Regions from separate parts of the Homo sapiens genome. Here region 2 is linked to region 1. The links come from fine-mapping of genetic effects on gene expression. A gene starts in region 1. The other region holds a variant in brackets. All regions are shown on one strand. Distances are between the middles of the regions.

Region 1 (4,399 bases):
GTCCTCTAGCATTGGCCCAGCTCCCCAAATACTTGTTGAGTGGAAGAATACCTCATAAGGTTGATATAGATGGAAAAGAAATAAACTGTATATAGCACTATATAAACAAACATACCCAGTCAGTCCTCTGTATTCGCAGGGTCTACATTATGGGACTCAACCAACTATACACTGGAAACATTCAAGGAAAGAAGAAAAAAAAATAACAATACAACAATAAAAATAATACAGTCCAACAACTATTTTCATAGCATTTACATTGTATTAGGTATCATAAGTAATATAGAGATGTTTTAAAGCATAGAAGATACATTAATATGTAGGTTTTATACACATAGTGCACCATTTTACATAAGGGACTTGAACATCCATGAATTTTGGTATCCCTCAGGGTTCTGAAACTAATCCCTGATAGATGCGACTGTATATGTGTGTATGTATCAGTATATAGAATACTATGGTTAGCACATGGTAAGTATTCCATACATTTTGATTGTTTTTTATTATTATTGCTTGGAACCTCAACTGAAAATGTGTCTCCTTCTTGCACAGAACATGGATACTTCTTGTGCTATGTCACAAGAAGTCACTATCTCCCCAAATAAAAGGCTAGATTGACCAGAATGTTTGCATCTTTCCCATTCAAGCACCTGGCTAGGCCCATTAAGCCTAGGGCCCTACCTCTCAATGCTTTTCAATCCCCTGACACTCAGTACTCTCATTACATATTTGGTGACTTAATTTACAGAATTGCTAAACTCACATTTCTGAACATGGCTTCTAAAACTGACTATCTCTCCCCAGCTTAGCCAGAAGGGCTGCAAGGAAGAACAGAGACCAGAAGGCCTACAGCAGCTAGCAAGGTTAACTTCATGGAGCACCATCGTGCCTTTCAAAGTTCCCATTTCACAAAGTTTTGCCTGGGAACTCAGCAGGAACTTTAGCAACAGGAGAGAATTAGAAATAAATGGCTAAATGAAACCTAGATTTATGTTTCAGTCAATTGAGAGAATCTGACATGTTATGTGCCAGCCCACAGTAGGTATTCAGTAAGTAACTGTTGAATAAATTTGGTGGTAGAAAAAAATATCTCAGTGGCTCTTGGCATTCATTGCCTCTTCTATAGAGACTATACTATACATCCCTCTGCTGCCTTTGAGCAGGACTTTAAAACTCTATGACTCTAGTAAAATCAAGAGTATTTTCACAACCAAGATAAGTTTTTACAATGGTTTTCCTCCACATGGTAAAAAAGAAAGAAGGAAAAAAAATGATGAAGCTCCCTGAATTACTGGATGGGAAACACTGGCTTCTTTAATGCAGGAATGCAGACTGGCTTCGGGGTTCTTGAAGGAGAAATGCATAACTCTTCCTCTCCAGGCTTTTGGCTGGAGACACCCTGTGGGTAAGTTAGGGGAGAGGTAAGAGGGAGCGGGCAATTCCAGTATTTTCACATAGGGAAAGGGTAACGAAGAATCAGGCTGTAAAAGCCAGCTATTGGGAGAGGAAATAAAACTTAAAAATTTGTCATCGTTACTGAAAAAAAAAAAAAAAAAGGTAGGGACAAAAGGAATAGGAAAATGATGGGGGTGGGGGGACTAGTAAAGGAAAACCTGCAAAGGAAGTTGGAAAGAGGAAAGAGTGTCATACGCATTTTGTTTTTATTCCTGCTCCTTCTCTCTCACTCCCTCCAGAAGCTAGAAAAAGTTTGCAAGCGCAACTTTAGGGATGGGAGACGGGGCTCTTCACCAACAGCCCCACGAAAAGAAGTGCCCGCTTTACCCTTCCCCATTCGCGCCGCCGTCCTTTCCCTCTAGCGGGGTGATGGGCAGGAGGCGACACTCTTGGGACGCGGTAGCCCAGGCGGATCCCCCGGAATCCCGCTGGGCTGGAGCAGCACGCAGCTCTCTCTCTGGCAAAGCCTCCTCTGCCTTGGCCATCCACCTCCCGGAAAAGAAAAAGGAAAGATCGAGCCTCTAAACAGTCCTTTTCCCCCACCCCCTCTTCCCGGGGGAGCTCAGGAAGAAAGTACCGTTCTGTGATTCACTGGAGAGAAAAGAGGGAGGAGGCAAAAGAACTCGGAGTGCCAAAGCTAAATAAGTTAGCTGAGAAAACGCACGCAGTTTGCAGCGCCTGCGCCGGGTGCGCCAACTACGCAAAGACCAAGCGGGCTCCGCGCGGACCGGCCGCGGGGCTAGGGACCCGGCTTTGGCCTTCAGGCTCCCTAGCAGCGGGGAAAAGGAATTGCTGCCCGGAGTTTCTGCGGAGGTGGAGGGAGATCAGGAAACGGCTTCTTCCTCACTTCGCCGCCTGGTGAGTGTCGGGGAGATTGGCAAACGCCTAGGAAAGGACTGGGGAAAATAGCCCTGGGAAAGTGGAGAAGGTGATCAGGAGGCCGGTCCACTACGGCAGTTTATCTGTCTGATCAGAGCCAGACGCGACGCGTCCACTTCGCAGTTCTTTCCAGGTGTGGGGACCGCAGGACAGACGGCCGATCCCGCCGCCCTCCGTACCAGCACTCCCAGGAGAGTCAGCCTCGCTCCCCAACGTCGAGGGCGCTCTGGCCACGAAAAGTTCCTGTCCACTGTGATTCTCAATTCCTTGCTTGGTTTTTTTCTCCAGAGAACTTTTGGGTGGAGATATTAACTTTTTTCTTTTTTTTTTCCTTGGTGGAAGCTGCTCTAGGGAGGGGGGAGGAGGAGGAGAAAGTGAAATGTGCTGGAGAAGAGCGAGCCCTCCTTGTTCTTCCGGAGTCCCATCCATTAAGCCATCACTTCTGGAAGATTAAAGTTGTCGGACATGGTGACAGCTGAGAGGAGAGGAGGATTTCTTGCCAGGTGGAGAGTCTTCACCGTCTGTTGGGTGCATGTGTGCGCCCGCAGCGGCGCGGGGCGCGTGGTTCTCCGCGTGGAGTCTCACCTGGGACCTGAGTGAATGGCTCCCAGGGGCTGTGCGGGGCATCCGCCTCCGCCTTCTCCACAGGCCTGTGTCTGTCCTGGAAAGATGCTAGCAATGGGGGCGCTGGCAGGATTCTGGATCCTCTGCCTCCTCACTTATGGTTACCTGTCCTGGGGCCAGGCCTTAGAAGAGGAGGAAGAAGGGGCCTTACTAGCTCAAGCTGGAGAGAAACTAGAGCCCAGCACAACTTCCACCTCCCAGCCCCATCTCATTTTCATCCTAGCGGATGATCAGGGATTTAGAGATGTGGGTTACCACGGATCTGAGATTAAAACACCTACTCTTGACAAGCTCGCTGCCGAAGGAGTTAAACTGGAGAACTACTATGTCCAGCCTATTTGCACACCATCCAGGAGTCAGTTTATTACTGGAAAGTAAGTGTTCCTACTTCTTATATTTATTCCTTGGAGAAATCTTAAGCATTTAATGAAGATCCAGCTCCAAATTTAAGGGAGTAACAGAAAGTATGGGGAACAACTGAATGAATGAAGAATGAATGAATGATGTATGGTATTGGGGTACCGTGTTAAAATGGATACAATGTTAATGATCTTAATTTTCTAGTCACTAGTGTAGTCTAGTTTTCCTTTTTACAGAGCCAATTATAAGTTTCTAAATGAGATGAGAACGTATAAATACCCACAAACCAGAGATTTCCAGAAATGGTCTCCTGTTTCAAATCTATTCTACTTTTGAGCATGCTCAGATTTTGTTTCAGATGTCATACTAGAATTCACACTCACCATCACTGATAAGAAAGATCAAAAATTTTTTTTACTCTTGGTGCATTCTTAAATCTAGAATTATCAGAGAAAATGAACCAACGAAACAGATATAGAGTAATGTAAAATATGACCAGTTTATGTATGACTCTGCTTCGGTCTTTGATGGGTCATTTTCTCTTATGAGACCCCCTAATGAAGGCCATATTTAATTAGCAAAGCAGTTCTCAAAATGCAAGGAAATACAATGGTAAGTGCTCAAGAGGAGTCAAACTTCATCTGCAGTTTTCTGTTGCTCTTCACAGGTCTGGAATTTTCTGACTAACCAACAGAAATCAGACTATTTGGATGCTTAAGTAAAGTGCTTTTCATATTGTTGCTGCTTTGCTAAGTAGCTAAATCTTCTACTTAAATTGTTCAAACATTTTCATATTTTTACTCTATCCTATCAGAACACAGGCTACTGTAATTGATTTGGATGTACAAATTCAGCCTGTGGAACGAAGATAAACTAGGAAGGGCAGGGGTTAAGCTGGACAGAGGTAGAAGAAAATCCTTAGCCATTTCAATCTATGTCTTGTGATTTCAGTTGCAGGACAGGGAACCCTTGCTTCTGTGAAGTTGTTCTTGGAATTGGATCCTATAAAAGTAGCCAGTATCCATTGGAAAAATAAAGACTATTTTGTAAGAATCTCTGTCTCGCAGAGACTTTTGCTTAC
Region 2 (4,399 bases), 140 kb before region 1:
ACTTTTCATAAATCACCAGAAGTGAAGCCAGCAAAAGACTAATTTCAAAGAACATTTCATTATTTCTAATCCTAGGCAGATTCAAACTAAAAAGACTTTTCCCAAAGAAAAAAAAAAAGAAACATATAAATTTGAATAATTGTTTTTCAAAATACCAAAGAAATTGTGTGCTTCAATAAGTGATACATCAAATGACAAGCCTTACCTGAATTCATTGAGGGCCTGACTGATACTCATGCTTCAAAGCATTTTCAAAATGCTTGTTTTTCAAAGCTTATGGTTTTCACTTGGAGGCCCATATTTCAACTTTAATTGATTCCCTACAGAACTGGACCCTTATGTTAGTTACAGTGTCTGTAACTCACTTGAAAACACTTCAGCATAGACAGTGCGTTAGGAGGAGTGTGTTAGATTAAGCTGCAACCCAGGAGCAGCTGGCATTCAAATCAGTCATGCACAGTCGGCTGAGGAACAGGTAGATTCTAGTCAAGAAAGCCCAGTCCAAAAATTTGAGGATTAAAATAAATAGTGATAGTAACAGATTATAACTCATACAGTAAAATAAGAACCATGAATGCATACTCATAAATGACTAAAGAAATAAAAATGTTAATGAGGAGAAGAGATAGGGCTATCAGTTCTTCATATCACTCTTGTGGTGTTAGGAGGCTTTTATTTTGCCTAAAATTAATTTATTCACTCAGCAATTGTTTTATGTCTACAAGAACACAATTTTATTTATTTTATTTTTCTAATTGACAAATAATAATTGTGAATACTCATGGGGTACAAAGTGATGTTTGGATACATATAATTTACGGTGATCAGATCAGGGTAATAAGCATATCTATCATCTCAAACGTTTATCATTACTTTGTGTTGGAAAAGTTCAATATTCTCCTTCTAGCTATTTGAAACTGTATAATAAACTATAGTCATCCTACAGAGGTACAAAACACGAGAAGGCATTTCTCCTATCTAGCTGTAATTTTGTATCCTTTAACAAATCTCTTTCTATTCCCCCCTTAGATTTCCCCTTCCCAGCCTTTACGGTATCCTCGGTTCTACTTTTCAGTTCTATGAGATTGACATTTTTTAGCTTTCATGTGTGTGACAACATGCAGTGCTTACTTTTCTGTTCCTGGCTATTTAACTTAACATAATATTTAACAAATATTTATTGGGAACTTAGTATATGTCAGAGGCTGTTCTAGGCAGGTAAGATAAAACTATTACAAATAAGAAGACACACACAGAGCCCTCATAGATAGTTATATTCTTTCTCACTTATGAAAATTATTTCATAGAATAAACTTTGTGTGAATGTAAGTTAGGTTTTTGTATAGTAAACTAAAATTTCTCAGGGCTTTAAAAATAATTATCATCTCCCATCCTGTTTCTTTGGAATTACACACCAATAAGAACAAGATAATATAAAGGAAGAAGGAAGTGGAGAAGAAAGATTAGTGCTGTTGAGTCTCAAATATTCAGAAACCTAGAGACTACACAATTAATTAAACTAATTGGGAAATTTCACAAGAGTAAAAATTGTTTAATAACAATAATAGTAGTGTTAATAATAATAGTCTAAAATGGAAAGTAGGGTTAGAATTGAATATCGCCTCAATTGGCAATTTCTGGAACTGGATAATTAGGACATCCTCAGGATCAAAAATACTCTAAAATTGCTTTTATCTTAGGGATATACAGTGAAGGTGACCTCAGGCTGGGATATTCACCTGACTGCTGAGAAGCTTGGAACATTTCATTGCAAACATGCCAGCCCACTAAAGCAGCAAGCT[G/A]TTTCCGCTTCTCCCAACAAATTCAGAATGGAAATGAAATTCCAATTATGCAGCAAATACAGGTAGTATAATTAAAATTTCTATTTCATTACTTCACATCCTTTAACTCTTTTAGGATGCATTGCTTAAACTATGAACCTGTAGATTGCCATCTGATAACTCTATAAAAAGCAAAATGTTGACTGATTTGAGTTTGCATTTTTCATTTAAATATACCATTATTAGAAACAAATGTGCTTTTTTTTTAAGATGGCCAACTACAAACATTACGGTCATAATTGTTGCAGGCAAGAAGTTGCAAAAATTGGGCAAAAGTTTGAGGAGAAACATTGCATACCCACATTGTATCACTCTGAAGATACTTAACCAATTACAAGGGCAAAAATAGTGGGAAAGCCAGCAGACACTGCCTTAGCCAAATGATCCAGGTTAACATCACCAGTAAAAAAGATATATCATCATAAATACCTGTGATATGATGCAGGGGCATAGATGGACAATAACATCACTTCTGTGGTATTCTTCCCAAAAATGTACAGCCTCAACCTTAGGAGAAAACTAAAGGCAAATTCAAATTGAGAGATATTCTAAAAAGTAACCATTAGTCCTTATCAAAAATGTCAAGGTCATGAAAGAGAAGAAGAAACTGAGGAACTATCACAAATTGGTAGAGACTATGGCAACAATTAAATGTAATGTGGAACTCTGGATTGGATCCTAGCACAGAAAAAGTATATTAGGAGCCAAAATAGTGAAATTTGAATATGGGGTGTAGCTTTGTTAATGGTATTGTAATAATGTGAATGATAATTGTTTCATGGTTTATAAATTGTAAAAAGAAGAAACTGAGGGAAGAGAATATGTGAACTCTGTAATATTTTCACAACTCTTCTGTAAGTCTAAAACTATTTCAAAAGAAAAAGAAAAAAGACAGGTATTGGATTACATTTTAGAAAATATAATCCAAAGCAAGTTGTTGATTCAACATTAAAACATCTTGTAGTATTACTCCTTCTAGAGTAAAAATGAACAAGTGACTTTTTCTCCCTTGCATTTCTTCTAGATTGAGGCCTGACCTGTCTAAATTTTCATTCAGTCACGTTTGCTATGACTGAACTACAGAACCAAAATACTGCTTTACAATGGAGAACACACCTTTAACTAAGGTGTGATTTTTTGTTACTGTAATCTTTTTATGTAATTATCAAAGCAAGCTGCACCAAACAAGCCAGAGATTAATATGCTGGGATGTCCATTTAGCTCTTTCTAGATAGGCTTCAATTTGGCTAAAATTTAGAATTATTATTTTTCTTCTGAGCACATCACATAGATGTCAAAAAGTTCTCTCCAAAACTTCTTATGCTGTCAGCTTTAATAGAGTCTGCTTACACAGATGAAAAATAAAAATTTCCTCCTTAAAAAATAACAACACAGAGATTCTTTCCACTGAAAACTTGCAACTGAAAATTATTTGAACTCTAAATAACTATAGACATTTAGATATTATTTCTTGAGGGCAGAACATCTTTTTGAGTTAGAGGTTATAATGAGAAATCTTGAACACTGGTGGAGTGATACCAACTCCAAATAAACTGCAACTTGCTTGCCTTTTCTTCAGTAGCAAATATTTAGCTCTTTGTTGCATTTTTTTCTATACATAGTCAGTACCAAAACTTTTGAAAGATAATTTATGTCACCCAGTAGGACCGAAACATGAAAAATAACATAGGCAGTATCTGGCTCATGGATCCTGACAATTATGGTCTATTCAATTTCACTAATCTTACTTCATTTACTCATATCACAAGTTGAAGACTATAAAATTTCCACTTCGTCACTGTTGTAATAATCTATGTTAATGGAAATAATTAAGTACCTCAATTTAAATCTAATTTCTCAATGATACATATTTTGAGATCTAGCAGTGGTTAAGTAACTCTGTAATTAAATTATAAGTTATTGTTTCATCAGAAACCGTCAACTTCACAATTATCTTAAAGCTAAATAAAATTACTGTGTACATAAATTGTGCAAGGTGCTATGCAAATTTTCTTCTCACAATAACAAGAAATGAGCTGACATCCTCTTTCTTTCCTGTTGGCTTCCCATTTCCTCTCTTCTGTAATCCATATGATATGTTTACACTGTTTTTCCTGTCCATCATTTAAATGATTTGCAAGAGAGTACTCCATATTCTTCAGTTTTAGCAACTAGATTGCATATTTGCTCTCCTTTTTTTGTTCTACCATAATTTAAGTGACTGTTCACATGGATAACCTTTCCAACAGCAGAGCCCTTAAGTTTCAAAACATCTTAACTCTAATGCCCATCCTCTCCACTTCGGCCCACATATGCAGCAGCACCCTGAAGCACACCATCGCCTCTCACTGATCAACCTTCAAGATCTGATCACAGCATCAGTTTCTTCCAAATCTCCCAATGTGTGAATCCTTCAAATACTGATCTTTACTGCACAATGTAAACCCTTAATCTGGTCCTATTCCCCAAGCTTCTCTTCTGGCCTCATTTACTTCCTTAACCAGACTAACCATGGTCAATCTTTAAGCTGTGATCTCGAATAAGCAGCCAAGAATTAA

Direction of the effects. Alleles are on the strand shown, and positions count from the first base shown. SD is a standard deviation of normalised expression in the study named.
For the expression in cerebellar hemisphere of the gene that starts at base 2,122 in region 1, A is the low allele of the variant in region 2 and G is the other (large effect, 0.89 SD a copy in GTEx).

Evidence for each region. PIP is the estimated chance that this variant, and not a neighbour inherited with it, causes the effect.
Region 2: its variant is the best candidate, but not a certain one, in a credible set for the expression of ARSJ in cerebellar hemisphere (GTEx, PIP 0.88).

The regions. Positions count from the first base shown.
Region 1 is chr4:113,977,370-113,981,768 of GRCh38, reverse strand. It overlaps ARSJ (arylsulfatase family member J), which reads left to right and starts at 2,122. Exons shown (of 2, transcript NM_024590.4): 1 at 2,122-3,332. The coding sequence starts at 2,935. It overlaps LOC107986305 (a long non-coding RNA gene), which reads right to left and starts at 1,956. Exons shown (of 2, transcript XR_001741794.2): 1 at 1,783-1,956; 2 at 241-1,399. It overlaps LOC124900762 (a long non-coding RNA gene), which reads left to right. Exons shown (of 3, transcript XR_007058237.1): 3 at 805-874.
Region 2 is chr4:114,113,084-114,117,482 of GRCh38, reverse strand. No RefSeq gene overlaps it. Among named protein-coding and RNA genes, the nearest start is that of ARSJ, 140 kb to the right of the region's middle. The variant G/A (reference allele first, on the strand shown) is at 1,803.